Regions from separate parts of the Homo sapiens genome. Here region 2 is linked to region 1. The links come from fine-mapping of genetic effects on gene expression. A gene starts in region 1. The other region holds a variant in brackets. All regions are shown on one strand. Distances are from middle to middle. Region 1 holds the start of MYL6 (myosin light chain 6). Region 2 holds the start of ESYT1 (extended synaptotagmin 1).

Region 1 (15,950 bases):
AAAGGAAATGTATACAGAGGCCGGGCGCAATGGCTCATGCCTATAATTCCAGCACTTTGGGAGGCCAAGGCGGTGGCTCACCTGTCAGGAGTTCGAGACCACCCTGGCCAACATGGCAAAACCTTATCCCTACTAACAATACAAAAAAAAAATTAGCCAGGTATGGTGGCACACACCTGTAATCCCAGCTACTTGGGAGGCTGAGGCATGAGAATCACTTGAAACCAGGAGGTGGAGGTTGCAGTGAGCTAAGATGCACCACTGCACTCCAGCCTGGGCCACAGAGCAAGACTCCTGTCTCCCAAACAAAACACAAAAAGGAACGTATACTGAATAAACATGCTTGAAGAGAGCAGCTAAAGGGCCCTAATACAATCTCCTTCTGCTTCTCTTCCTCTCAACCTTTTCCACTGTGCTCTCTGGGAGCCTATTTCCACATAACACTTCCCACCCATTCCACCTTTCTTTTTTTTTTTTTTTTTTTTTTTAGGGGGGTACAGAATTTCACTCTTGTTGCCCAGGCTGGAGTGTAATGGCATGATCTCGGCTCACCACAACCTCCACCTCCCGGGTTCAAGCGAATCTCCTGCTTCAGCCTTCCTGAGTAGCTGGGATTACAGGCATACACCACCACGTCTGGCTAATTTTGTATTTTTAGTAGAGACAGGGTTTCTCCATGTTGGTCAGGCTTGTCTCGAACTCCCGACCTCAGATGATCCGCCCACCTCGGCCTCCCAAAGTGCTGGGATTACAGGCATGAGCCACGGCGCTCAGCCTTTCTCTTTTTTTTTTTAGATGGAGTCACCCTCTGTTGCCCATGCTGGAGTGCAGTGGCACAATCTCAGCTCACTGCAACCTCCGCCTCCTGGGATTCTCATGCCTCAGGCTCCCAAGTAGCTGAGATTGCAGGCGCCTGCCACCACGCCTGGCTAATTTTTGTATTTTTAGTAGAGACAGGGTTTCACCATGTTGGCCACGCTGGTCTCAAACTCCTGACCTCAGGTGATCCACCTTCCTTGGCCTCCCAAAGTGTTGGGATTACAGGAATGAGCCACTACGCCCGGCCTGCTTTTTTTAAAAAATTTTTTAAGGACAGGGTCTCACTCTGTTGCCCAGGCTGGAGGGCAGTGGCACAAACATGGCTCACTGCAGCCTTGACCTACTGGGCCCAAGTGATCCTCCCACCTCAGGCTCCTGAATAGCTGGGATCAGAGGCACACGTGCCACCATGCCTGGCTAATTTTTGAATTTTTTTTGTAGAGTTGGGGTCTCTTGCTATGTTGCCATGGCTGGTCTTGAACTTCTGGGCTCAAGTGATCTTCCCACTTTGGACTCCCAAAGTGCTGGGAATGTTCATGTCTGATTAACCCCAGTTTTGGGAATGCCTCTAAGATTTCTATTTTATCTACTGTTCTTTGTGTAAGAGCATGTACTTACCATAATTTCTCCTTAGATCAAAACAATCTTGATCATAAAGCCTGGCTTACTGAGTATTCTTGCCTTTCCCTGCAGGGTAGACTTCAATTGTCCTAGAGGTTCCTTCCCTGTGGTAAGTCCTGGGGTCAGGACTTACTCCAGGGGATGATGTCCTGGGGATCCACCATCGTGTCTCACCACTACCCAAGACACAGACATGGCTTCTGTTCATAAATTCCTATTAAATATTTCTAAGAAACTGGATTTGTCAGCCTCCTTCCTCAACCTCTTAGCTTCCTTGGACTTTGGGGGTAAGTGTGCATAGACCTGTGCACTGCGGAACAGCTCCCCAATGGCTTTCCATATTCTTTCAATCTAATGGGCCACTCTGGACAGCTGAACATGTGGAGGTTCCTGGAGGACGGCATGCCTAGGGAAGGCAAGCAAGCTTCGGACTCACCTCCCTCCCTGCCCACAAAATGCAATCTCTAAGAATATACAGGCCAGTCAAGGTAGGTCATACCTATAATCCCAGCACTTTGGGAGGCACCTGAGATGGGAAGATCACTTGAGCTCAGTTTGAGACTGGGTAACACAGTGAGACCTCATTTCTAGAAAAAAACAAAACCAAAGAAAAATAAGAATATACAAATCACATGCTAAGCAGGGAGAGGAGAGAGGAGAGACAGGCATTTCTCACAGATAATTCACATATATAATCACCCTATGCCCAGTTAAGACCATGTTTCGTCCAGTTCCTGTTATTTATGATCAAGACAGGGATGGCACAGAAAATGAAGGATAGCCTTCCCATCTCTGCAAGGGTCTTAACGTTTTTTCCCTGTACTACTTCTCTATAGAAAATGCTAGAAAGTCAGATGATGCCATAACCACTCATACTTGGCAAAATGCCAAAAATGGGAAAAGGAAAGAAAAAAAATTACAAGAGCCATATTTTGAAATCAATGTCTGCAAAAGTAATGAAAGCCACACAAAGGCATCTATAATGTGGCCCTTTCCCAGTCTTATAACCACTTAAAAATGTATTCCTTCTTCCTCTCCGTCTCTTCACAACACCTATTGATCCTTACTTCATTGATGTAAAATGGGGAAAATATCAGCGACCTCATACCTTGGGAAGATTAAAGGAAAGTTATTTAACAAAAACTTATACAGCACTTATGCTGTGCCAGGCCTATTCTATTTTACACTTTTTTTTTTTTTTGAGTTGGAGTCTCACTCTGTCACCCAGGCTGGAGTGCAGTGGTGCGATCTCGGCTCACTGCAACCTGCCGGGTTCAAGTGATTCTCCGACCTCAGCCTCCCAAGTAACTGAGATTACAGGCGCCCGCCACCAGGCCCAGCTATTTTTTTTTTTTTTTTTTTTTTTTTTTTTTTTTGTATTTTTAGTAGTGACAGGGTTTCACCATGTTGGCCAGGCTGGTCTCGAACTCCTGACCTCAGGTGACCCACCTGCCTCGCCTCCCAAAGTGCTGGGAGGTGTGAGCCACCAAGCCCGGCCCTATTTTACCAATAATAACACTTCGAATCCTCCGAAGAGCCCTATGAGGTAGGTACCATTATCATTATTTTACAGATGAGGAACTGAGGCCCAGGAGAGATAACTAAACCTGCTGAGGGTCACTAACTAGGACCTGGTAGAACCAGGATTTAAATCTGAGTAGGCTGTCTGAACCCCATCCACTTGAGCACCCTCTGAGATAATTTAGCCCCTTCACCGGTACGAGATCTATGGCGGCCTCCAGAAATGGTTGCTAACTTACTATTATCGTTATTTCTGTCGTACAATTCATTTCTACCTTTCCAATAAACTTTCCCCAACCAGTGAACCTCACTTACTGCCCATAAAGTTCACCTGTGCCTCACCACCCTGCCATCGCCCGAGTTTTCTGCTCTGATCTAATCCTCACACGCCTGTGCAGCACCAGCTTCCAACACCAGGTGCACCGCCAGGGTATTTACTGATCCAGTGAGTGAAGGTGGGCCCGGCCGGGCTGGTTCCCATCCTCTGATCAACGCCTAGGGGAACCAGTGAACTCCAATGCTGACCATAAGAGTTTCAGAAAGTAGGGCTGGAAAGCCCAGCCCTCCGCTCAGAGACCTGTGAAGATCGAGGAGGATGGCGCATATGCTGCCGCAGGATGGAAACCTCGATCAGAGAAGGCTGGGGCAGGTGACTGGGCTTAATTGCAAATTTTAACATTTACTTCAGCAACCAGCTCATTAAAAACAAACTACTCTGAGGCCTCTTTTTTTTCTACCAAACCGCGAGAGGAAGCAAAAGAGAGTGCAGCGGTTCTCCCCGGGGCCGTTAAGTGCTTCCAGCTATCTGACCTCCACGCTGCCTGCTGCAGCCTCAATCTTTCCCCAGGTTCTGAGTTCTTTCAGCAGTAGGTCCAGGAAAACAGCCGCCCCGCCCCCTCCACCTCCCGAGACTAGGAGCCCGCCAGGGTTAAGTAGGAGGGATACCCTAGGGGCCCCGCAGGGTTTTTAGGGTTGGGGTGGATTGGAAATTGTTCATTGCCTTTCAGTTCCGGGACATAAAGCGCGCTGGAAGGACACTGAGTCACCAACCACCGCCATGGGCCGGAAGCCACCGCCCTCGCGTCAACTGCAATCTAGAGCGCGGCGCATCCCGTGAGCCCGCGGGGAACTACGACTCCCGGCATGCTCCGCGGCCACCGGAATTAACCCTTCAGGGCTGGGGGCCGCGCTATGCCCCGCCCCCTCCCCAGCCCCAGACACGGACCCCGCAGGGTGAGTTTTTGGGGGCTGAGGAGGGCCATTTTCTTTAAGATTTAGTGGGGGTGCGTGAGTGTGTGTGTGTGTGTGTGTGTCGTGTGTGTGTGATGTATTTTGTAAAAATGGGACAATTTGCAGTCATGAGATTCAGACGCTGTTTTGCGAATGGGAGACCCAGCATCAACCCCGGGGCCTAAGTGGAATCACTGCTATCTTCCTCAGAATGCTACCTAAATCCTTTCCTAATTTACCCCAGAACAAAAGTAGCCTGCAATCCCTCCCCACTCCCAAACGCCCCCCAACTTGGACTCTCTCCCAGCGCCCCTGGCAAGGTTTGTGACCTGGCCCCTGAGTCAGGATTTTTATTATACCCCTGGTTGTGGGGTGAATACTCATGGAGCCATAGGAGCGCCCACATCCTCTTGGATTAGGGAATTTAAGCCGTCTCCCAGAGCCTGCCCTTCTCCTCAGGTGCCACCAAAGGGTCCCCACAGGTTCAGCAAGCACCCTACCTTTTGTTTGTCTTGAATGACCGTGGGCTTGTGGAAGGTTTCTTCCATGGAAGAATGGGTAGCAGATGTTAAACCTGATCTTTGCCCCCACTCCTGCCCCTAAAACAACACTGGGCACAGGAGACAATGAGGGATGTCATACTCCTGTTTTTATGACTATTCTTCCTTTATACTGTGAATAGTTCCAGTTCTTGGCTGGGTGGGGGCTCAGGAACTACAAGTATTAGGGATCATTAGACTCTAAGGTTAACTACCCCTGCTCTTTACAAAGCCATGGTCAGAAGGGAGTGGAGGGGCTGGGCAGATGGGCTTCTTGTTTTTGTCATTGCTCCCAGACCACACTTTAACTTGTTCCAGTTCACACAAGCCTCCCTGGCTGCTACCCCTCACCCCACCCTTCAAGAAGACTAAAGCTGCTGGATCACCTGCTTTGCCTCACCACCCCCATCTCAGTGCCACTGGCAAGCATCCTATCCTCACCCTGGAGGTTAACTACCTCATTCTGGGCAGTCTCTGGCTTCCTCCCCTACCCCTAAAGGAAACATTGTTCTTTTCTGGTCAGCCTTTGGGGATAAGGGGACAGAGGGAAGAAGACCTTGGGGCAGGAGTCCTGAACCATAGGAGGCCAGGGGAGTGAGGGCAGGCGGTTATATCTCTCCTCTACCTCATCTTTGCCACAGCCAACTGGCTCCCTGCCCCTGCCCCCGCCCCTTGACATCCCAGACTCCCTGGCTATTTAAACAGAGATGGGTGCCCCCATCCGCACACTGTCCTTTGGCCACCGGACATCATGCCTCCCAAGAAGGATGTTCCCGTGAAGAAACCAGCAGGGCCCTCCATCTCCAAACCTGCTGCTAAGCCAGCAGCAGCAGGGGCTCCTCCAGCCAAGACCAAAGCTGAGCCAGCTGTCCCCCAGGCCCCTCAGAAAACCCAGGAGCCTCCAGTCGATCTCTCCAAAGTGGTGGTGAGTCTCTGGAAAGTGAAGATAGAATTGGAGGGGGTGGTTTGAGGGTGGGATACAGCCTAGGGGATTAGGGGGTATCTAGAAGGTAGGGAATCAGTGAGCCCTGGAATGAGATTGGGGCTTTCCCTTAGTCCCCCATTTGGAAGCATCCAGTCTTATGACTCTGCTGTTGTCTTTGCTGTTCTCTCCCTCTAACCTATAATCATGTGTGTACAGCACATACACACTCACTTACCCCCTGCTGGAGGCAGGGACTCTTAGATGGGGAACATCTGGGTTCTGAGAACAGTTTCAAGGTGAAGGGAAGAGAGCTGTTGCCTGCCCCTGGCTGGTGGTTCAATTCAAAAGGCCTGCAGCTCTGAACTCCAGGAGGGGAGGCTGAAGAGGACAGACTTGTTAGACAATCACAGCTGGGGGCCAGGGGTAAATTTAGCCTTTGTTCAGCCCCCAGTTATGTGTGGGATGCAGGGCTCAGGGCAATGGAGGGAGGGAAACAGGTGGCATGGGATTAACCCTGTTCCCAGGAAACCCTCCCCACTGTAATTCCTCTTCTTGGGATTCTCCCAAGGCCCAGAGCTGGGAATGGGACTGAGGTGGCTGGGCTTCCAGCCTGGTCCCTTTGGGCCCCTCCTCAGAAGTGGCTGCCAGTTGGTTGGGAGGAGTGCGGGAGAGGGATTGAATAAACTCTCATCTCTCCCCACCTGCTTTTTTCTTCCACAGATCGAGTTTAACAAGGACCAGCTGGAGGGTGAGGAGAAGCTCATCTAAGGCCACTGTCCCATCCCCAATCCCCTGGTCAGATTCTCTTTCTATTCCCCTAACCCCAGTCCTGACCTTGAAACCTCCCATACTAGTCCTCTTTTCCTCCCTTGTTCTGTTCACATAGTTTCTGAAATTCCCTTCTGTCTGGGGGTGATGGGAACCCTAGTCAGTGTCTACACTGACCCTTCCTTATACTTTAGAGTTCAAGGAGGCCTTCGAGCTGTTTGACCGAGTGGGGGATGGCAAGATCCTGTACAGCCAGTGTGGGGACGTGATGAGGGCCCTGGGCCAGAACCCCACCAACGCCGAGGTGCTCAAGGTCCTGGGGAACCCCAAGAGTGATGGTGAGGGGACCCTTGGGAACAATTTGGGTTTTTAGTTTTCAAAAGTTGGATGTTGGTAACAAAAAGAATGAGGTGGATCTCAGGACTTCAAAAACTGTCAAACACAGAAGCAGGAAAATATCCTAAATGCTGAATAGGATGAAAGCATTGTGGTAGGGTTGGGAGCTGGGTCCTATGTAATACTACAATGACCTCTCCTTTACCTCTCTCCAACCTCCAGAGCTGAAGTCGCGGCGTGTGGACTTTGAGACTTTCCTGCCCATGCTCCAGGCAGTGGCCAAGAACCGAGGCCAAGGCACATATGAGGACTACTTGGAGGGGTTTCGTGTGTTTGACAAGGAGGGGAACGGCAAAGTCATGGGAGCAGAGCTCAGACATGTTCTCACCACCCTTGGTGAGGCAGGCAAGGGGGACCAGAACTCCTTTAGAGTGGAGAGGGGGATGGGGTGGGCCAGAAAGACTGGACAGATAAGCAGAGCTAGCAGGAGGCTTACTGTCCTGCAGGTTGTCGGCAGGAGACTGAGAAGGTCAGAGCTATGGGGGTAGAATCTGAAGGACTCGCTCTTCCAGAGGCTAAAGTGCCATCCGGAGGGCAGAGGAAAAGGGATGAGGCGGGAAACCTGAATTTTCATTTTGGAAGAGACGTGTGGGTTGTGTGTTCTGGTACAAGTCTCGTAACCTCCTGGGATTGTTTCCTTGTGGGTCAATACTTTCAGCAGTACTAGGGTGAAATGGAAAGCAAGAGGCATCCATGACCAGGGGAGGATTCCCTTGAGGACTGAGGCTATGGGAGAAGAAGAGGTACCACTCTAAAGAGCGTGGCCTGGCCAGGTATGGTGGCTCACGCCTGTAATCCCAGCATTTTGGGAGACCAAGGCGGGCGGATCACCTTAGCTCGGGAGTTCGAGACCGGCCTGGCCAACATGGTAAAACCCCATCTCTATTAGTAATATAAAAACTAGGCGGGCATGGTGGCACGCACCTATAATCCCAGCTACCCAGGAGGCTGAGGCAGGAGAATCGCTGGAACCCGGGAGTCTGAGGTTGCAGTGAGCCGAGAGATCATGCCACTGTACTCCAGCCTGGGGGACAGAGCAAGGTTCTGTCTCAAAAAAAAAAAAAAAGGCCAGACACGGTGGCTCAAGCCTGTAATCCCAGCACTTTGGGAAGCCGAGGCAGGCGGATCACTTGAGATCAGGAGTTCAAGACCAGCCTGGCCAACATGGTGAAACCTCGTCTCTACTAAAAACACAAAAATTAGCCAGGCATGATGGCGGGTGCCTGTAATCCCAGCTACTTGGTAGGCTAAGGCAGGAGAATCGCTTTAACCCGGGAGGTGGAGGTTGCGGTGAGCCGAGACCGTGCCACTGTACTCCAGCCTGGGTGATAGAGCAAGACTCAGTTTAAAAAAAAGCAAAACAGCATGGGCTGGCCGGGAGCAGTGGCTCACTCCTGTAATCCTAGCACTTTGGGAGGCCAAGGCAGGAGGATCGCTTGAGCCCAGGAGTTCGAGACCAGCCTGGGCAACGTAGTGAGATTCTATCTCTATTTAAAAAAAAAAAAAGTACAAGGCTGGGCGTGGTGGCTCACACCTGTAATCTCAGCATTTTGGGAGGCCGAGATGGGCAGATCATTTGAGCTCAGGAGTTCGAGACCAGCCTGAGCAACATGGCAAAACCATGTCTCTACAAAAAAATTTAAAAATTAGCCAGGCGTGGTGGTGCACGCTTGTAGTCCCAGCTACTTCGAAGGCCGATGTGAATCACTGGAGCCCAGGAGGTGGAAGTTGCAGTGAGCCATGATGATGTCACTGCACTCCAGCCTGGGTGACAGAGGGAGACCCTATCTCAAAAAAAAAAAAAAAAAATTACAATTGTTATGTTTATATTGTTGTTTACAAAAATATATGGAAAAAGCCAGGCGCGGTGGCTCACGCCTGTAATCCTAGCACTTTGGGAGGCCGAGGCAGGTGTATGACCTGAGGTCAAGAGTTTGAGAGCAGCCTGCCCAACATGGCGAAACCTCGTCTCTACCAAAAATACAAAAAATTAGCCGGGCGCCTGTAATCCCAGCTACTCGGGAGGGTGAGGCAGGAGAATCGCGTGAACACGGGAGGCGGAGGTTGCAGTGAGCCGAGATCGCTCCGCTCCACTGCACTCCAGCCTGAGCGACAGGAGCGAAACTCCGTCTCAAAAAAAAAAAGGAAAAGCGTGGCCTGGGTGAGTGAAGGAGGGAAAGGAGGGCCTCAGACGTTGTGTCTGGGATTCAGGAGAGAAGATGACTGAGGAGGAGGTGGAGACCGTTCTGGCAGGACACGAGGACAGCAACGGCTGCATCAACTACGAGGGTGAGGGGACAAAAAAGCGGGAGCGGGGCCGAGGGAGGAGGGCAGCCTGGCGTCTTGCCGCGTGTGGGCGGGGGCACCCCTGGATTACCTAGAGTCAGATGTATTATCCAAAGGCCTGCTTCTGAAGCCCCTCTTGCCTCCTCTCTCTGCAGCCTTCTTGAAACACATCCTAAGCGTCTGAGTGCTGCAGGTAGGGCCCTCCCACCCCTTCGCCGCGCCTTACGAGGCAAGTCTCCCGCCCTTCTCTCAGCCAACATAGAAAAGCAGCGGAGTTCATTCTGCTGTCCGGTTGCTGCACGGGCTCCAGCGCTTCGCAACTTTGGTTTTTTTCCACAGATCCAGTGGGGTCCGGACACTGGGCCCCGCAGGCGAAAGCACGTTCCAGCCACCAGGAGGCCACCTATTGTTTCAAAATAAAGACTGGGTTCCTCTCTTGGTTTCAGACTGCTATTTTTTTCATGGTTGGGGGAGCAGCGGGAGACGGGGAGGGTGCTAGGAGGAGAGGGCGGGAAAAGAGGGCTCTCTCCTCTTCCAATCCTCTGATCTTCCTGCTGTTGGGAGGTGCAGATTCATTGTGCCCCAGCCCACGTCCCCCCACGACCCCCGCCCCCCCACCTCCCCCCACGACCCCCCCCACCTCCGAGCGGGTTCTGTGCCCAGGTGGCGCTGGAGAAAGGAACAGCGGACCCCGCCCAAGTCATTACTAATGTAGCAATCGTCTGCATAAACCCAGGCCACGGTTCCTATTGGCTGAGTCCTCTGAGGGTGACGTCATCGGGACGTACTAAGACTAGGGTTGGGCCGAGAGTCGGAGCCATTACTGCAGGAAAAGGTCCCGGAGAGCTGAGCAGTCAAGATGGTGGGGCCCAGGTCTTGGGAGACGGGCAGGATTGGGGACGAGAGGCAGGAAGAGACGGGTGGGGGGCGAGGAGAAGGCAGGGGTAGGAGGCAAAGGGAATCTGAGGACCCGAAAGGTTGGAGGTGGGGTTGGAAAGACTGGGGCCCTGCGGGGAAGCGAGTCTGCAGCCTGAAACAGGAGTTTGTGGGTCAGAGTTTGTGGGTCAGAGTTTGTGGGGCTGGGATAGAAACTCGGGGGATTGGCGTTCAGATGCTGACCACTTCCCTCTTCTCTGAGCAGTGTGACTTCACCGAAGACCAGACCGCAGGTAGGTTATCTCTGATCCCTACCGAGGTCACCCTTAGGGAGAGGGACACCCTCCCCCCAGCACCTATCCTCTAATCTTAATCTGTCATCTCTTTAGCACCCCCATGAGATTACCCCCTGGATTATTTTCTCTTCTTCTGGATCCTCCATTTTCTTTTCTCACTTTCTTCCTCCCTCCCCTTCCACTCTAGATCTGATCCCAAGCACTGGGTGAGTTTTAGGTGGTGTGGGTATGTGAAAAAACTTGGTCACTTAATGCCTGCTGTGTGTGGGGTCTCGGGAGGGTGTATAAAGCTGCCTGCTTTCCTTTGTCCTTTAATCAGCTACTTCTGCCTCTTTTCTCCTCTTGTGATAACTGTCCCCGCCCTCCCAGCTTGCAGTTGTGAAGATTGTAGAGCAGTGACCTGATATTCTGTGCAGATGGGGACAAGACAGGGGAGTTTGCTAAGGATATGACTGTAGCTATACCCTCTGGAAGTTCTCTTTATACTGGAGGGGTGCGAAGTGGCAGGTTGGGATGACCCTAGTCCCAGGCTGCTGCTCCCACTTCCTTATAAGGACAGGACTGAGACTGGGCGGTGGCGAATTCCTGCCCTGAGAAGTGTAGTAGCAGCAGTGGAGATTGGCAGGCCTGCCGCAGGCAGAGGGGTTGTGTAAATGGATGTTACCAGGCTGCCAGAAGGGGAGGAAGCCTCTATATAGAACACTTGAGTTGGGAGGAAGAGAAATAGAGCCCTCTTAAGTAGACTTTGGTGTACAGTTTGGTGCAGATATCTCGTTTCCTCAGCATGATCAAAGTTGAATGGGCAGCAGAGCTCTGAGGTAGGGTTTGGATTAACCCTCAAATCCTGTGTTGACATTCATCTGAATCCTCAGAGTTCAAGGAGGCCTTCCAGCTGTTTGACCGAACAGGTGATGGCAAGATCCTGTACAGCCAGTGTGGGGATGTGATGAGGGCCCTGGGCCAGAACCCTACCAACGCCGAGGTGCTCAAGGTCCTGGGGAACCCCAAGAGTGATGGTGAGGGGCCTAAAGAACAACTCCTCAGTGTGGTCATGGGCCCACAGTTCTTCAGCTAAGAGCTTCCCTTTATCTTCATAGGCCCCAAACTCAAGCAAGTCTGGATTAGCAAATCCCATGGATTTCCTTGCTTTTAGTGGGGAGTCATCTGTCATCTCTCTGTTCAGTTGAGGTCTCTATAATCCCCTGTCCTGAGAACTTGTGTTACTTCTCTGGCCTGACACTTCCACCTCCTTTATGGCAGAGATGAATGTGAAGGTGCTGGACTTTGAGCACTTTCTGCCCATGCTGCAGACAGTGGCCAAGAACAAGGACCAGGGCACCTATGAGGATTATGTCGAAGGACTTCGGGTGTTTGACAAGGAAGGAAATGGCACCGTCATGGGTGCTGAAATCCGGCATGTTCTTGTCACACTGGGTAAGGTTCTGTGTCCTTGTCCTTGAGCTGAGATGGCACCCTGAGGTACCTCACTTGTCACCCAATTCCAAAAATGCTTTCTTTCCCCCTGCAGGTGAGAAGATGACAGAGGAAGAAGTAGAGATGCTGGTGGCAGGGCATGAGGACAGCAATGGTTGTATCAACTATGAAGGTAAGAGGTGAACTGCGCTTTCTCAGAGAAAGCAGCCATATGGGGCAGGTCAAGTATAGTGTCTGGGGCTTTCCCTATCCCTGGACTTGGGCTCCAAAAAGAGCCAGGAGGCAAGGTGCAGGGCCCTGCCCAGCCCAGCCCAGGAGTGGGAGGTCAGGGCGGTATAACAGGAAAGGAAGGGGGTAGTATTGTAGAGGGTGGGAAGGAATGAGAAGTGAAATAATGGAATGTCTGTCCCCACTGCCTGACCCCTCACCCCATGTCTTTGTCTTGTCTTCACCATGAATGTCTCTTCCTTCCTGCAGCGTTTGTGAGGCATATCCTGTCGGGGTGACGGGCCCATGGGGCGGGTACGGCTCCTCCCAGCCTCTCCTCTAGTTGATCTCCCCAGTGTTTCTTTTTTCCCCAACCTGTGCTCTTTATCCCCTGCCCTTACCCTACTACCATCTGACTTCCTCCTGGCATGTTTCTGCATGGAGCTGACTAGGGAGGGGAGGGATTCCTCAAAGAGGAAGACAACCTGGGGGTACAGTACCTCCTTACCTCTAGAATGGGCCCTGAGGTTTTACTTATGCGGCCCTGGGTGCTGGTGTCTGGGAACTCTCACCAGCCTGTATACCAGTCTTGCTTTAGGGTGACCTTCTGGCCCTGGAGCATGGGTAGCTGGCATAGAGGGGTATGGGTTGCCTGCCCCATTCTGCTGCTATAGCTGAACAGTCCTTTCCCCTTCCCTCGCTGGGCAGCTTGGAGGTACCCTAACCCAAAACTCTGTCCTCTCCTCCCGCCAGTGGCTGACAGTAGCTGTAGGTGTAGTGGAGAACTTTTCTGCCTCTGCTGTGTTCTTGCTGCTTAGGTTTGGGTGGGGGACTAACAGCTGCTGGGAGGGGAGCTAGGGGCATGGAGAACTGGTCAGACTCAAGGTGGCTCCTCTGCAAACTGACCCCAGGGTTGGTTGCTGTGGGCATGTTCCCGCTTATGCTACCTTTGCAGTCTGGTAGTCCCCTGGCCCTTGGCGTACCCCTCCACAGCCCTGTTCCCTGGCTCATCCCACCTTTCCTTTCCACAGAGCTCGTCCGCATGGTGCTGAATGGCTGAGGACCTTCCCAGTCTCCCCAGAGTCCGTGCCTTTCCCTGTGTGAATTTTGTATCTAGCCTAAAGTTTCCCTAGGCTTTCTTGTCTCAGCAACTTTCCCATCTTGTCTCTCTTGGATGATGTTTGCCGTCAGCATTCACCAAATAAACTTGCTCTCTGGGCCCTCGGTTCGGTTCTTTCTTTCCTGAACAGGGTAAAGGGGAAGAAGGTGAGATGGTGATGATTTCTGCCCTGAGGCAGAGTCCAAGGTCAATCAATGGTGCAGGGGTTGAGGAAAGCTGGGGGAGGCCCTGTACTAGCCATCTGGGCTTCATTTAAAAACTACTGGCCCCATTCATCCATCTTACACAAGCTACCTCTTGGGAGATTAGGAAAGCCATAGATCCCAGTAGGACTAAGGCTGGCCATCCCTGTTCCATTCCATATCAGGCTGTCTTCTCCTACCCTTCCAGCTCCTTAAATCTGGCCCCCGCCCTCCCAAGCTCCCAATAAGGCCTTTTGTGGGGAAGCCTGTGGAGTGTTTATTGGAGCTAAAGCCAGGCCATTATTAGCACTGCCTAAGCCTGTCCGTCACCTCAGCAGGGTGAAGGGCCAATTATAACAAAAGTAGGTAAGGGGCTTGCCTCCTCTCTAATAAGGGAAGGAGTGAAACCACTACTTCTGAAGGGACAGAGATACAAAATTCCATGTTGTGGGAATGTCCTTCCAAGTCTTAAACAGCTTTTAGGGCAGGTGAGAGCCTCTGCTCCTATACCAGCACATAGTCTCGACAGTTGTGCTGCCGTTCGTGTTTTGTGGGGAGGCGCAGTGTCTGTAGGCCGTGTGGCTTGCAGAGTGTCTTTCGGCCCAGGTAAACGCCGCTGTGAAGGACTCCAGGAAAGCTGCTCCCATCACAATCCCCCTGCCTGACAGCCACAGGTAAGAACACAGAATGCACCCACAAGATGGAACTGAAAGCAAATTAATTTATAAAAAAAAAAAAAAGAAAGAAAGAAAAAAAGAGAAAATTTACAGAAAACTTTGAACAGAAGAAAGGTGCTAAGACGCAGAGGGAGAGAAACATGGGGACATGAGGAACAAAGGGCCTGGTGGGAGGAACCAAGAAGAACCAGTGCAGAGCCTGGAGTCACACCTGCCTTCCCGTCACAGGGGAGAAGCTGGGACACGTGGAGCAGGAATGCGGGAAGCAGAGTTGAGCTGCGAGCCAAGGGTTGGTCCAACCCAAGGTTGGGCACCCTCTTCCACTGCTCCCAAATCCCTGCATCCTCATCTGGGGAGCCCCCAGCTATCAGCTGAAGTTCTCATAGTCTTGGTGGGAGAGGGAGGAAGCTAAGGGGTGACCCACCAAGTCATAATATGGAGGTGCTTAAGTGCTTTAAAAAACAATTTCAGGTTTTAAAACTTCACATCCTCTTATAGCTCCCTTCTCTGTGCCTTCCAGGAGTCCATGGATACAGCCCAGGGAAGGAAGGAGAACAGCCCCCAGTGCCCTTTCTTCTCCTATTACCTACCACAGAAATCCCCGAAATTAGGTTTTCCCCACCAAATACACATACGCTGACATCAACTAAGCAAGTGACTTTTAAAAACAAAACTGACATTCAGAGGGAAAGGAATCATTGGCTGAGCTGGGGTGGCCTAAAACAGCAACAATGAGGAAGCCGCAGGAGGGATTATTAGTACGAATGAACTCGAATAAGCTCAGCGTAGGGTGGGGGAGGGGAGTTGGGGCCTTGACTTAGTCACTAAAAAGGGGCTTGGGGAGAGATGGAATCTGCGCCCTGTTCTATCCCCAGAGCTCTCCCTGGAATCTTAATTCCCCTTTCCTAAAACTCACTCCCCCTCAAAAAATGTAAAAATTGGTTATTTTTTAGTGGGTAGAAGGGAGCTCCAATGTGGCTTTTTAAAATCTACTTTTTTTTTTTTTTTTTAATCCATAGAAAATGCAGTAGTTTGGAGGGAGGTGTACCCTTAGAAGTGGTTAATAGAACCTTGTATAAACACCTTTCACCAGCCCTTCCTTTAGGGCAGCATTCCCATCCTATCCTCTCTCCCAGACATTATAAACATCTTTTAAACAGAAGTCCTTGAATAATCTGATATAAAAATGCATGCCTCTGTTAGGCATGGTGAGGGCTTTGGAGGGGCGGAAGGAGCTTTCCTTACGTAGTGATGAACTCTCCAGGCTGGGGAGGGTCCCAGTGGTGGGGGAAGGGCTGTTCCTGGAACCGTGATGTCCACAGGGGGTGAGGGGGAGAGATGTCTGGCTGGCTCCTCACTGTGGAGGTGGCACAGGGGTGACCGTGCCTGGGCTCGGGGCTGTGGGGTCTGGAGGCAGGGGGGTGCCTGGGTCTGTGGAGAAAAGGAAGATAAATCAGTTAGAGTACGCCGGAGAGATGGCTCCAGACCCAGACCACCACAGACAGACAGAACCGGGCATGGCATGCAGTGGCTGGGTGGATGAATGAGGTACCCATAATGTTCAACTTCTGTTCCCAACACTCTTTTCTACCTCATACTCAGAAAAACATATAGAAAGACTCTCTATATGGGGCATTTGAACGTGATAGGAATAAGCAAAGGGATGCCACTCAATCATCATGCAAACAGCTGCTTTTCAAGTTTACAACTGAGATGCTCTCTGCCACAGGATTGCTCCATGACCCACCAGTGAAAGGCCCCAACATCATCCCAAAGGTGGCAGCTGCCAGGCTGGGGAATGGTGGAGGACGGCCAGAGAGGCCCTTCCTCCTGTATTCTAATTTTACCAGAGTGTTCAAAAAGGATTGTGGAAACTCTAATACCTGACCTCTTCCCCACCTGCCCGCTCACCCTCCCTCCAGGTGGACCCCTCTCCCTCACCCTTCTCCCCTCTTGGCCCCTTCTCACCTGGCAGTGGGCTGGCACTGGGCAGGAGGTTGCCCTGAACAGCTGCCACAATGGCAGGGCTTTGGGCTGCGGCGGATCCGAGCCC
Region 2 (10,581 bases), 31 kb before region 1:
CATTCCAAAGCTCTCTTGGGAAATAGGAGACTTAAAAAGCTTTTATGGAGTCTATAAATAAAGAGGATCTTTCTGGGTTGAGGAATGGTGTGGTTGGATGTCAGTGGGATCTTCACATAGGGGAGTAGGAAGGGGGTGGGGAATGGGGAAAGGTCACTTGTTCCTGTGAAATTAACTCCTTCCCACTTGACCTTATCACAAATGGTTTGTCCTAGGAAATCTAGAAGTGGAGACTCTAACTTAGAACTCCTATCCTGAAATAGAAGGGGCTTACCTCTCTGCCGTTGACAGTGATGATGGCTGGGAGGGAATACTAAAATATGACAGGTTTTGAGACTCCCCTCAAGCTGGTGACACCAGTCTCTTCACCCAGGATTTCTTGGCTTCTAGAGATTTGATGTGTACAGAGCCCTTACCTGAGGAAAAGGAAAGGGGGTTAAGGAAGTTTTGTTACCAGTGTCCCATCTTCTACAGCCCTAGTAGCTCAGTAGCCCATCTTGGGCACTATTCCCAGTTTCCTTCCAGACTATTCAGATACTGACTGCAGTTTTAATTTCACTTCCACAACTTTAATAAGGTCAGCTCAAAAGGAAAGATGAATTCCAACACTATTTTTTCCCTGCTCCGTCCTGGGCCTATCCCTCCTCCGTTAGCCAGGCAAGTGTGAATCATTCTGACCCAGACCAGGTGCACAAAACCCTGGGAGGGGCTTTTGATGAGTCAGACATTTCAGCCAGAATTCTTATCCCTTAGATTCTCCATCTCTAAAGCCATTGCCCCTCTGGGCCACCTGCTTTATAGTCAGGAAGAGTGGGATCTCCCTGGAGGACTCCTGTTTGATACAGTTCTCCTCTTTTGTAGTGGTCACCAAGAGTGGCAAGATAAAGAAAACCCTGAGTTGGGCGGGACCAGGATGCCTGACCGGGACAGCTATGCCAACGGTACCGGGAGCAGCGGTGGAGGCCCTGGAGGTGGTGGCAGCGAGGAGGCCAGTGGGGCAGGGGTAGGCAGTGGCGGGGCCAGCTCAGATGCCATCTGTAGAGACTTCTTGAGGAATGTGTGCAAGCGAGGCAAGCGTTGCCGATATCGCCACCCAGACATGAGCGAGGTGTCCAACTTGGGGGTGAGCAAAAACGAGTTCATCTTCTGCCATGACTTCCAGAACAAGGAGTGTAGCCGCCCAAATTGCCGTTTCATCCATGGCTCCAAGGAGGATGAGGATGGCTATAAGAAGACAGGAGAGCTTCCCCCACGGCTGAGGCAGAAAGTAGCAGCTGGCCTTGGCCTTTCACCGGCTGACCTACCAAATGGCAAGGAGGAGGTCCCTATCTGCCGTGACTTTCTCAAGGGTGACTGTCAGAGAGGAGCCAAGTGCAAGTTCCGTCACCTGCAACGGGATTTTGAGTTTGATGCTCGGGGTGGAGGAGGCACTGGTGGGGGCTCAACAGGCTCAGTCCTCCCAGGACGACGTCATGATCTCTATGATATCTATGACCTTCCTGACAGGGGCTTTGAGGACCATGAGCCAGGCCCAAAACGCCGGCGAGGTGGATGCTGCCCCCCTGATGGCCCTCATTTTGAGTCATATGAATATAGTTTGGCTCCACCGCGAGGGGTGGAGTGCAGACTGCTAGAGGAGGAGAATGCCATGCTCAGGAAGCGGGTAGAGGAGTTAAAGAAGCAGGTCAGCAACCTGCTGGCCACCAATGAGGTACTACTGGAACAAAATGCTCAGTTCCGCAATCAGGCCAAGGTCATAACCCTGAGCTCCACTGCACCAGCGACTGAGCAGACTCTGGCCCCCACTGTGGGCACTGTTGCCACTTTTAACCATGGCATTGCCCAGACTCACACTACTCTCAGCAGCCAGGCTCTACAGCCTCGTCCAGTGTCCCAGCAAGAACTGGTGGCCCCTGCTGGAGCTCCAGCTGCTCCCCCAACTAATGCTGCACCTCCTGCTGCTCCACCACCCCCACCCCCACACTTGACCCCAGAGATCACGCCACTGTCAGCTGCCCTGGCTCAAACAATTGCCCAGGGAATGGCACCTCCACCTGTCTCCATGGCTCCTGTGGCTGTATCTGTGGCTCCTGTGGCCCCTGTGGCTGTATCGATGGCCCAACCCTTGGCAGGAATCACAATGAGCCACACCACCACTCCCATGGTGACTTACCCTATCGCTTCCCAGAGCATGCGCATCACGGCCATGCCACACTGATGGGGCTAATGGACACTCCCCTGGTATAGCCTCGCAGGGCTGGGGTCAGGGGGCCCTTGCCCACTCACCTAGCCTTCCCCATCCCTGTCTGAAGGGCTCCCTTGAGAACTAGGACAAGAGACTACAAGGAGTATGTCCTGAGGAGGGGTTGGGATGGTGTGTTTTCTCTCACCTCCCTTTTATGAGGGTCCTCTTGTCCATCTTCAAGCCTCACAGTGGGGGCTTGCAGAGGAGTGCAGACTGAAGCCAGCAGAGAGGAAGGACTGACTGAGGGGCTGTGTCCTCTTATGGGAATTTGGGAACATCCCTCGTCTTGTCCTCTCTTCTGCACAGCACAGGTTCCAGCACTGGTTTTAGAAGAAAAAAATACCCTGCCCAGAGGGAAAGCCAGGAAAGATTGGGAAGTGGGTGGTCAGGAGAGAAGGCCTGATAGGAGCCTTCAGACAATTTGGGTCCTAGTTGCTTGGGTTGGACAATACAGGAATTGCTTCTGGGCCCTGGGAAAGCTGGGACCATAGTGCTCCAGCCCAAAGACTAGGGGAGCATTCATTACCCTAGTTTGACCTGAAAATCCATAGGGCAGGGCCCACTACTTTCCAAAGAAATAAAAGAACAATTATTTTTAACAAATGGAGGCAGTGAAAACTTGCTTAGCTATTCTGTGTGGAAGATGGGAGCAGTAAATAGATCTCATGCCAAAATGGGATAAAGACCCCAGCCTCACATAGCTTTGGTAAGATGGATAGAAGCCAGTGAAGAAGGGTAGGGACCCAGAACAAGACCAAATGGGGCTTTGGGGAAGGCACTTTATGGGGTAAAAGCTTTGGAGCCACCCAGTCTAGTTTTAAAAATAGTCCCATCTGTTTCTGGTCTCTGTCTGTATGTGCTATTCCCAGGTTGCCTCAGTAACCAGGGCTCCTAGGGTCATTTAGCAGGGCAGGCAGTAAGGAGAGTGTATTTGCTGAAATGCGGATGGGATGTTACATAGTTGACAGATCCTTATTCAAACAGAGCAGGACAGGTGGAGTTGATGGCCATTGAGTTGATGGCAGTTGCCGCTCAGTTGATGGCAGTTAATGTCCCTCCTACCCCACCCCTTCAGTGGCCAGTTCCTGAAGCCTTCAAGGCTTGGGAGGTCTGGGAAAAGAGAGTCCTTCTAGGGACACAAGCCTCAGGGTCCATCCCTTTCCTCTGTCTCCACATAGGACCAGAAGTTTTAAATCTACTTAAGTCAGTAAGGCCAGGGGCCCCAATAGTCAAACCTCAGTTCCTCCTCAGCTCACGGCTGATGTAGGGAAAACAACTCAGGTGTCTAGTCTAATGGGACAGTAGATTTGGGGGTAGAGAGTGATCCTGGATTGTGTTCCCCCTCATCATGTCTCCTGCTACCTCTTGCTTTCTTGTCTGGTTGATCACTCAGGTCACATCTGGGATTGGAGATGGTGGGCTAGGTCAAGGCCAGTCATTAAAAAAAAAAGCCTAAAGACTAAAAGTGGGCTAACATTGTGGATTTTAGAAACAACACATTGATAAGCTTAATGTTTTTTGGGACACAATTTTTTTTTTTTTTTTTGAGATGGAGTCTTGCCCAGTCACCAGACCGGAGTGCAGTGGCGCAATCTCGGTTCACTGTAACCTGCGCCTCCTGGGTTCAAGCGATTCTCTTGCGTCAGCCTCCCGAGTAGCTGAGACTACAGGCGCCCGCCACCACGCCCGGCTAATTTTTTTATTTTTAGTAGAGACGGGGTTTCATCGTGTTGGCCAGAATGGTCTCTATCTCTCGTGATCCGCCCGCCTCAGCCTCCCAAAGTGCTGGGATTACAGGCATGAACCACCGTGCCCGGCAATTCTAGACTATTAAAAGAGATGGTTTAAGAGCATTTAGAGAAGAATGTAACCATAGATACCAACATGAATTCTCAGTCAAATCCTGACTGACTTTATTTCCTCCTTGCCAGGTTATCTCCAAAGAGGTAGATTTGGGAAATTTTAGACATTGTATGTCTTGTATGTATTTACTCCAGCTGAAGACCACCAAGAATACACCTGGTAATTGAGCAAGTTGGGTTTAATGCTCATTGCAGTGAGGGGGAGGGCTCACCATTGGGGATAACGTGGTGTGTCTCAGCATGAGGGTGTTAGGAACGACTTAGAGAACTTAGACTTTGGTTAAGTGATTTTGGGGAAGATTCAAGAAAGTGGGTGTTCTTTTGGATTGGGTGCTGTTAAGGGAATCCAGGATAATTGGGTAGCTTGTCTAGAAGAAGGGCAGACAAGTGAACCTAAGCACAGTCGATGATGAAGTCACTCACTAGCTGGGAAAGGGGATGTTTGCTGTTTTGTGGTTTGCACACTGACCTTGTTTTGTGCTTAAACAAAATTGTGTAGTGATTTTGTTTTTTGTCTCACTTCATCGCAGTCACTGAGTGACCTTGTCTGATGCTGGTGTTTTGTGAGATTGTTTGTGTCCAAGAGAACTCATTGGCTACCTGTGAGCACCAGGTCAGCCCTAACAGCTCTGAAGCCTGGCTGTGTCAGGCCAGTTCCCAGATTACAGGAGCTACTTTCCTCTCTCTCACCTGCTAAGTCATCACAGATAAGAGGAAAATTACGGGTCAGTTAATCGTAGCATTTTTTCCATGCAAATGGCTCTGGTTAAAAAATAATGAGAAAAAAATAGTAGCATTTGGTAGAATCAAACTGAACACTTGTACTTAGTGTTGGTTAGCGCATTTATGTTAGAGAAATCTCTGTTCTCTAGTGATAAGCCCAAGGGCTATGTTTTATTGTAAAAAGAAAAAACCCAACTCGGGTAAACATGTAAAAAACCCATTTATCAACAGTAACACAGGAAGAGCTAAATAATATTCAAAGTGTCTGTAACTTGAATTGACTAAAACACTGGAGCACTCTCACACTAAAAAATTGCTTAGATCTTGAACTAGTTTGAGGAACAATGTTAGAGATTTATATTAGCAATAATTCACATGAGAACAAACTGGGACTTCCAGTTGGCTGCAAAAAAATAGAATCTTAGCCCTCAAGATGTCCATTTATAAATATTTATTAAGAGCCTGCTATGTTCTAGGCATCTTTCTAGGAGCTCCATAAGGGTAGTAGAACCTTGGTAATAGATTACAAATACAGCAGTTCTATGTTCTGCCTAAGTGTAACCACTTAGTAGTGTGTTGTTCTAAATGTAATTTTTAAAGAGGGCCATTGACAAACCAGTGTGTTGCTAGAAAAAAAAGGCTGGCAAGAGAAAGCTTCAAATAGAAGTCTTCAAATATTTGAAGGGCTGCCCAGTGGAGGAAGATCCTGTTTGCTACACAGGAAGTAAAAAGGGATTTCTAGAATAATGGCTAACTTTTTTTTTTTTTTTTTTTTTGAGACGGAGTCTAGCTGTGTGGCCCAGGCTTCAGTGCAGTGGCACGATCTCTGCTCACTGCAAACTCTGCCTCCAGGGTTTACGCCATTCTGCTGCCTCAGCCTCCAGAGTAGCTGGGACTATAGGTGCCCAGCTAATTTTCTTTTTGTATTTTTAGTAGAGACGGGGTTTCACCGTGTTAGCCAGGACGGTCTCCATATCCTGACCTCGTGATCCGCCCACCTCGGCCTCCCAAAGTGCTGGGATTACAGGCGTTGAGCCACCGCACCCAGCCGGCTAGCATTTGTTGACTGCTTAATATAAGCCAAGGCTCTGTGCTAGGCACTTTACATGCAACATCTCATTGACACAATGGGTAATATTATTGTACCCATTTTACAGAGGAGAAAGCAGGCTTAAAAAGTAACCTGCCCAGGGTTCTGCAAGTAAGGAATGGGGCCAGGAATCTATTCAGGCAGTCTCACTCCAGACGACAAAAGAAAGTTCTAATGATATAGCCATCCAACAAAGCGATCACTACTTGGCAGTAATTTTTTTTTTTTTTTTTTGAGACGGAGTATCACTCTGTTGCCCAGGCTGGAGTGTAGTGGCGTGATCTCGGCCCACTGCAGCCTCCGCCTCTCGGGTTCAAGTGATTCTCCTGCCTCAGCCTCCCAAGTAGAGTAACTGGGATTACAGGTACATGCCACCATGCTCGGCTAATTTTTGTATTTTTAGTAGAGACGGGGTTTCGCCATGTTGGCCAGGCTGGTCTTGAACTCCTGACCTCAGGTGATCCAACTGCCTCGGCCTTCCAAAGTGCTGGGATTACAGGCATGAGCCACCGCGACTGGCTTGGCAGTAACTTTTGAGGAATAAAGAATACAGAAGGAGTTTCCTCAAATCTTGTTGCCCTTCCCATCTTTGTGAGCTGAGATCAGAGTACCGTATCTCACCCTCTGCCTCTTGGAGGTGATTATGGTTTACATATAAATGCAGATTGCAAGTCCAGGAAGTTTACTCTCTCTCCTCCTGTAGGCCTCATCCTGTAAGACACTTCCTCTAACAAATGG[G/C]CATCCCTTCCTGTTGTCCACTTACTGCTTATCACCACCAGGTGGCACCTGGGCAGCAGAATTGTCAGTGGGCGGGGACCCACCCTGTTTACTTGTGTTGGTAACTGCATTGCAGCTGCTGATCCTGTGGCTCCTGGGCCCCAGCTGGGACAAGAACTTCCTGAGGATGAAGTTTTATCCCCTATATAATTTCTGATGATCTGGATGAGGTGAGGAAGGGAGAAGTTTGGAAAAGAACCTCCATAGGTCACCCTCTCCATTCCCCCATTCTCAGGAACCTCCTTGCCTACTCCAGTGCTTGGCAAATTTCAGTTTATAGAGAGGTTTCTCTCTAAGGTTCATCCATGTTCCTTCTGTAGTTCTGCTTTATCAGTTGGTGAGCAGGTCACTCATAATTCCTCCAATTTCCTTGTTTCCCTTTTCTACCTGCTTACCTCTGGGAATATGGAGGATATAGGAGACAGAATATTGTTTCTTAAATAGTTCTGCAAACTGAATGAAGCAGTCAAGATACTGCTAGCCCTAGGGAAGTAGAGAAAAGGAAGTGAAAAAATTTAAGTGATAGAGGCTGAGCAGGGACAGGTTTTAAGCAGCTTTGGTAAACACAGGCTGATGAAATCTATGCCCTGCAGAACCAGATAAAATTTATCAGCTGCAGGCCTCATCCTGTAAGACACTTCCTCTAAGAAATGGCTAGTTTCTTCCCAGTGATCAACCCCAGTTCTTCTGCTGCATCTGACAGATTTACATAATATGCCCCATATATACTGCATTAAAAGGTAATCATCTTATGACCAACACTTCCCTCATCAACTTCCAATTAGTCTAGTTCCTAGATCCTAGGACAACACTCCACCTCTAACGCCAGTTAACTAGTAACAATAGTCATCGGTGTACCCTGCACTTTTTCCTTCCTAAACCTACACCGTACACTGTGGGACTGCACTAGTTCTGCACCTGACTGTATGGCAAACCTTCCTTCTAACTCAGGCAAATGTGAAAAGGAATTGTCTTTCCCTTACTCTTGATCCCTCATTTTAGTGTCCTAGAAGTTCTTCAGGGTCAGAAAATTATTGGAAAATGTAATAATTTGCGCTGCCTCCCTCCCTTTTGGAGCCAACTAGTCTTACATCCATCCTCTAAGATAGAGATGACTTACTAACTCTTGGAAATTTCCAAAAAGAAATAAAGCCTCACTTTCTATTCACTCTGCTTTTTTTCCCCCTTTCCCTGAAGGCTGGATTATCTCAACTCTGTAATTCTCTGACTCTCCAGTTTTCTCCAGGGTCAGTCGTTACACCACACAAAGAAGGTAGGGGATTAGGGACGGGATAGACGGGGTTAGTTTTCAAACACTTTCATTCCAAATACGATCGTATCCTTTCCTTTTGTAAGGGCAGGCAGGAAAAAGTTGAAGGATAAGGAATGTGCTTAGAGTATGAAAACTAGAGAAAGTCGGCAAAAGAACATATATATATATCCCAGACCAAATCCTGCCAAACCGAATGAGTAGAGGGAAATCCTGAAGCTCCACAACCCCTCAACTTCGCAACTTGGGCTTTCTCCAAAACCAAGAAATTGGCGGTGCAGCTCTGCATGACGTCATACCACAGGCACTCCAATCCCACGTGGGGGAGCTCTTGGTCCCGCCTCTCCTGAAATGGTGCGCCACGCCTCCTCCTCTTTATTACCAATCGAATGCCGCCCCTGAGCCCCTTTCTTCCTTTTCCCGCCATCTCAGACCTCCCATCTTGGCCTTCGGGCCCAATCAGGGAGGCCCTACCTATCCGAAACCCGGTCCGTTCCCCGCGGAAGAGGGGTGGAGTTTCAACCTTTTAACTCCACCTTGGTCTGTGCAGCGCGGACCAACCCAAATCGCCAGAAAGGAGGGGCGTGGCTTGAAGTCCCCTCCTCCATCCCGGGGATCACGTTTTGCCTGGGGGAGCTGATCGCAAGACTAGGCAACCTCCAGCCAGTCCCTGGGTCGGGCGGATCCTCCCAGAGGTGGCACAATGGAGCGATCTCCAGGAGAGGGCCCCAGCCCCAGCCCCATGGACCAGCCCTCTGCTCCCTCCGACCCCACTGACCAGCCCCCCGCTGCTCACGCAAAGCCAGACCCAGGTTCTGGGGGCCAACCTGCTGGCCCTGGCGCGGCGGGTGAGGCCCTGGCGGTGCTGACTTCATTCGGGAGGCGGTTGCTGGTGCTGATACCTGTGTATTTGGCCGGGGCAGTGGGACTCAGCGTGGGTTTCGTGCTCTTCGGCCTCGCCCTCTACCTGGGCTGGCGCCGGGTCCGCGACGAGAAAGAACGGAGCCTTCGAGCAGCGAGGCAGCTACTGGACGACGAGGAGCAGCTCACTGCGAAAACTCTCTATATGAGTCATCGAGAGCTACCTGCCTGGGTGAGCGACCACCCTCGGTCCTCTGTGCAGCATAGCCCCCTTCCACCCCTTCCATCTGGGGCTTTTCCTCCTTATGCCTAGAGTCAGCTCCCTGCCTTGGGACAGTGGGCCCCAGACTTTCCCCTCTCTCCCCGCTAGCCGCCTGCCTGCTGGACGCGCCACTCTTGGAACCGACTGCTCACTCTCCCCACCCACCCTTTCGCATGCCCAGACTGGATCCTTCCACAGAATCAGGACTTCTTCCTCTACTTGGGCAACAGCAGTAATAACATCTGGGGACCCCGTCTCAGCCGAAGCTCTCCCTCCTAGCCAAGCCATCTTGAACGTCCCTCTTGCTTTTGGTGCCACTCGCGGCTTTGCTGCTCCTGGAAATCCTGGTCCCGTTACCTCTCAAAGGTTTCCCTAGTCTTTCCCATCCTCCTCGAGACTTTTTACCTACTTAAAGCCATACGGTTCTCTCTTTTCTCGCTTTTATCCCCGGGTACCCGCTAGGACCCAGCCCCGGCCCCTGGACGACCCTCGGGCAGCCACCTTCAAGCCTCCAGCCGCCAGACTGCAGCGCGGCAGAGGCGGCTGCTGGACGGAGGGAGGGCTACGGGAGGAGGTGGTGCGGCTGCTGCAGTGCCCGCGGCGCACACTCCCCCGCACTCCTCGGCCGGCCACACCCTTTTCCGGACTGTGGGCTGCGCTTGTTCCGTTGGGGCAGAGACCCTTATTTCTGCGGCGGCCGCGTCTCCTGTGCTGAGGCGGATGCCTTCTCTCTAGTCTTGCAGAGGCGAAGCCGGTTACCCGGCCCCTCCCAGCAGAGGTGCCAGTCTAGGGGGAGAATGGCAGCAGAGAGGAATCAAAATTGACACTAGACAGACACAGCCAAGCTTCCCAGGCCCTGGACTGGAAAGGGGAGGAGAAAGAGGGCCAAATGGCTCTAGGGGACCTGTAGCCTAGGCAGCAAGTGTTTGTCTCCTCCTCATCATCATGGAAACCAATCTTCCTACCCCCAATACAAAGCGCAGGTGTCCTTTCCCTTAAAAGGAGTCACACAGAGAAAGATAGAGGAAAACACACACACACACCCCAAAAAACCCACAAAGCCAGGCCTAATTAGGTCTTCTGGCCCCTCCCTGACTCAAGGAAGGACTTGCTTCCCTCTTCACCTTCCTGCTCTAGAAGCCCCGTCTGAGGGGAGTTGAGAAGGCTGGAAAAGGGGACTTTTTTTTTTTTCTTTTTTGAGACGGAGTCTCGCTCTGTTGCCAAGCTGGAGTGCAGTGGCCCGAACTTGGCACACTGCAACCTCTGCCTCTTCAAGCGATTCTCCTGCCTCAGCCTCCTGGGTAGCTGGGATTACAGTCACGCGCCACCACGCCCGGCTAATTTTGTATTTTTAGTAGAGACAGGGTTTCACCATGCTGGTCAGGCTGGTGTCGAACTCCTGACCTCGTGATCCGCCGGCCTCGGCCTCCCAAAGTGCTGGGATTACAGATGCGAGCCACCGCGGCCAGCCTGGAACCAGGACTTTTTAAA

The links.
Region 2: its variant is fine-mapped to the expression of MYL6 in whole blood (TOPMed, PIP above 0.99).

What each region holds. Positions count from the first base shown.
Region 1 is chr12:56,148,438-56,164,387 of GRCh38, forward strand. It overlaps MYL6 (myosin light chain 6), which reads left to right and starts at 9,922. Exons shown (of 7, transcript NM_021019.5): 1 at 9,922-9,967; 2 at 10,247-10,274; 3 at 11,150-11,293; 4 at 11,538-11,711; 5 at 11,806-11,883; 6 at 12,189-12,233; 7 at 12,950-13,142. The coding sequence starts at 9,965. The coding sequence ends at 12,217. It overlaps MYL6B (myosin light chain 6B), which reads left to right and starts at 4,150. Exons shown (of 8, transcript NM_002475.5): 1 at 4,150-4,194; 2 at 5,436-5,655; 3 at 6,376-6,403; 4 at 6,618-6,761; 5 at 6,982-7,155; 6 at 9,031-9,108; 7 at 9,261-9,298; 8 at 9,445-9,545. The coding sequence starts at 5,482. The coding sequence ends at 9,289. MYL6B-AS1 (MYL6B antisense RNA 1) reads right to left here and starts at 9,788. Exons shown (of 3, transcript NR_186043.1): 1 at 9,746-9,788; 2 at 9,197-9,508; 3 at 2,359-2,548. It overlaps SMARCC2 (SWI/SNF related BAF chromatin remodeling complex subunit C2), which reads right to left. Exons shown (of 29, transcript NM_001330288.2): 28 at 15,866-15,950; 29 at 13,922-15,328. The coding sequence ends at 15,252. It also overlaps LOC124902942 and LOC124902943. RefSeq lists enhancers at 8,921-9,030, 11,041-11,110, 11,151-11,220, 12,191-12,813, 12,814-13,434 and 1 more and silencers at 9,651-9,820, 10,191-10,370.
Region 2 is chr12:56,119,650-56,130,230 of GRCh38, forward strand. It overlaps ZC3H10 (zinc finger CCCH-type containing 10), which reads left to right. Exons shown (of 3, transcript NM_032786.3): 3 at 862-7,865. The coding sequence starts at 914. The coding sequence ends at 2,218. It overlaps ESYT1 (extended synaptotagmin 1), which reads left to right and starts at 8,618. Exons shown (of 31, transcript NM_015292.3): 1 at 8,618-9,060. The coding sequence starts at 8,671. RefSeq lists enhancers at 1,506-2,503, 6,591-6,850, 8,290-8,951, 8,757-9,006, 9,327-9,426 and 1 more and a silencer at 8,487-8,556. The variant G/C (reference allele first, on the strand shown) is at 6,659.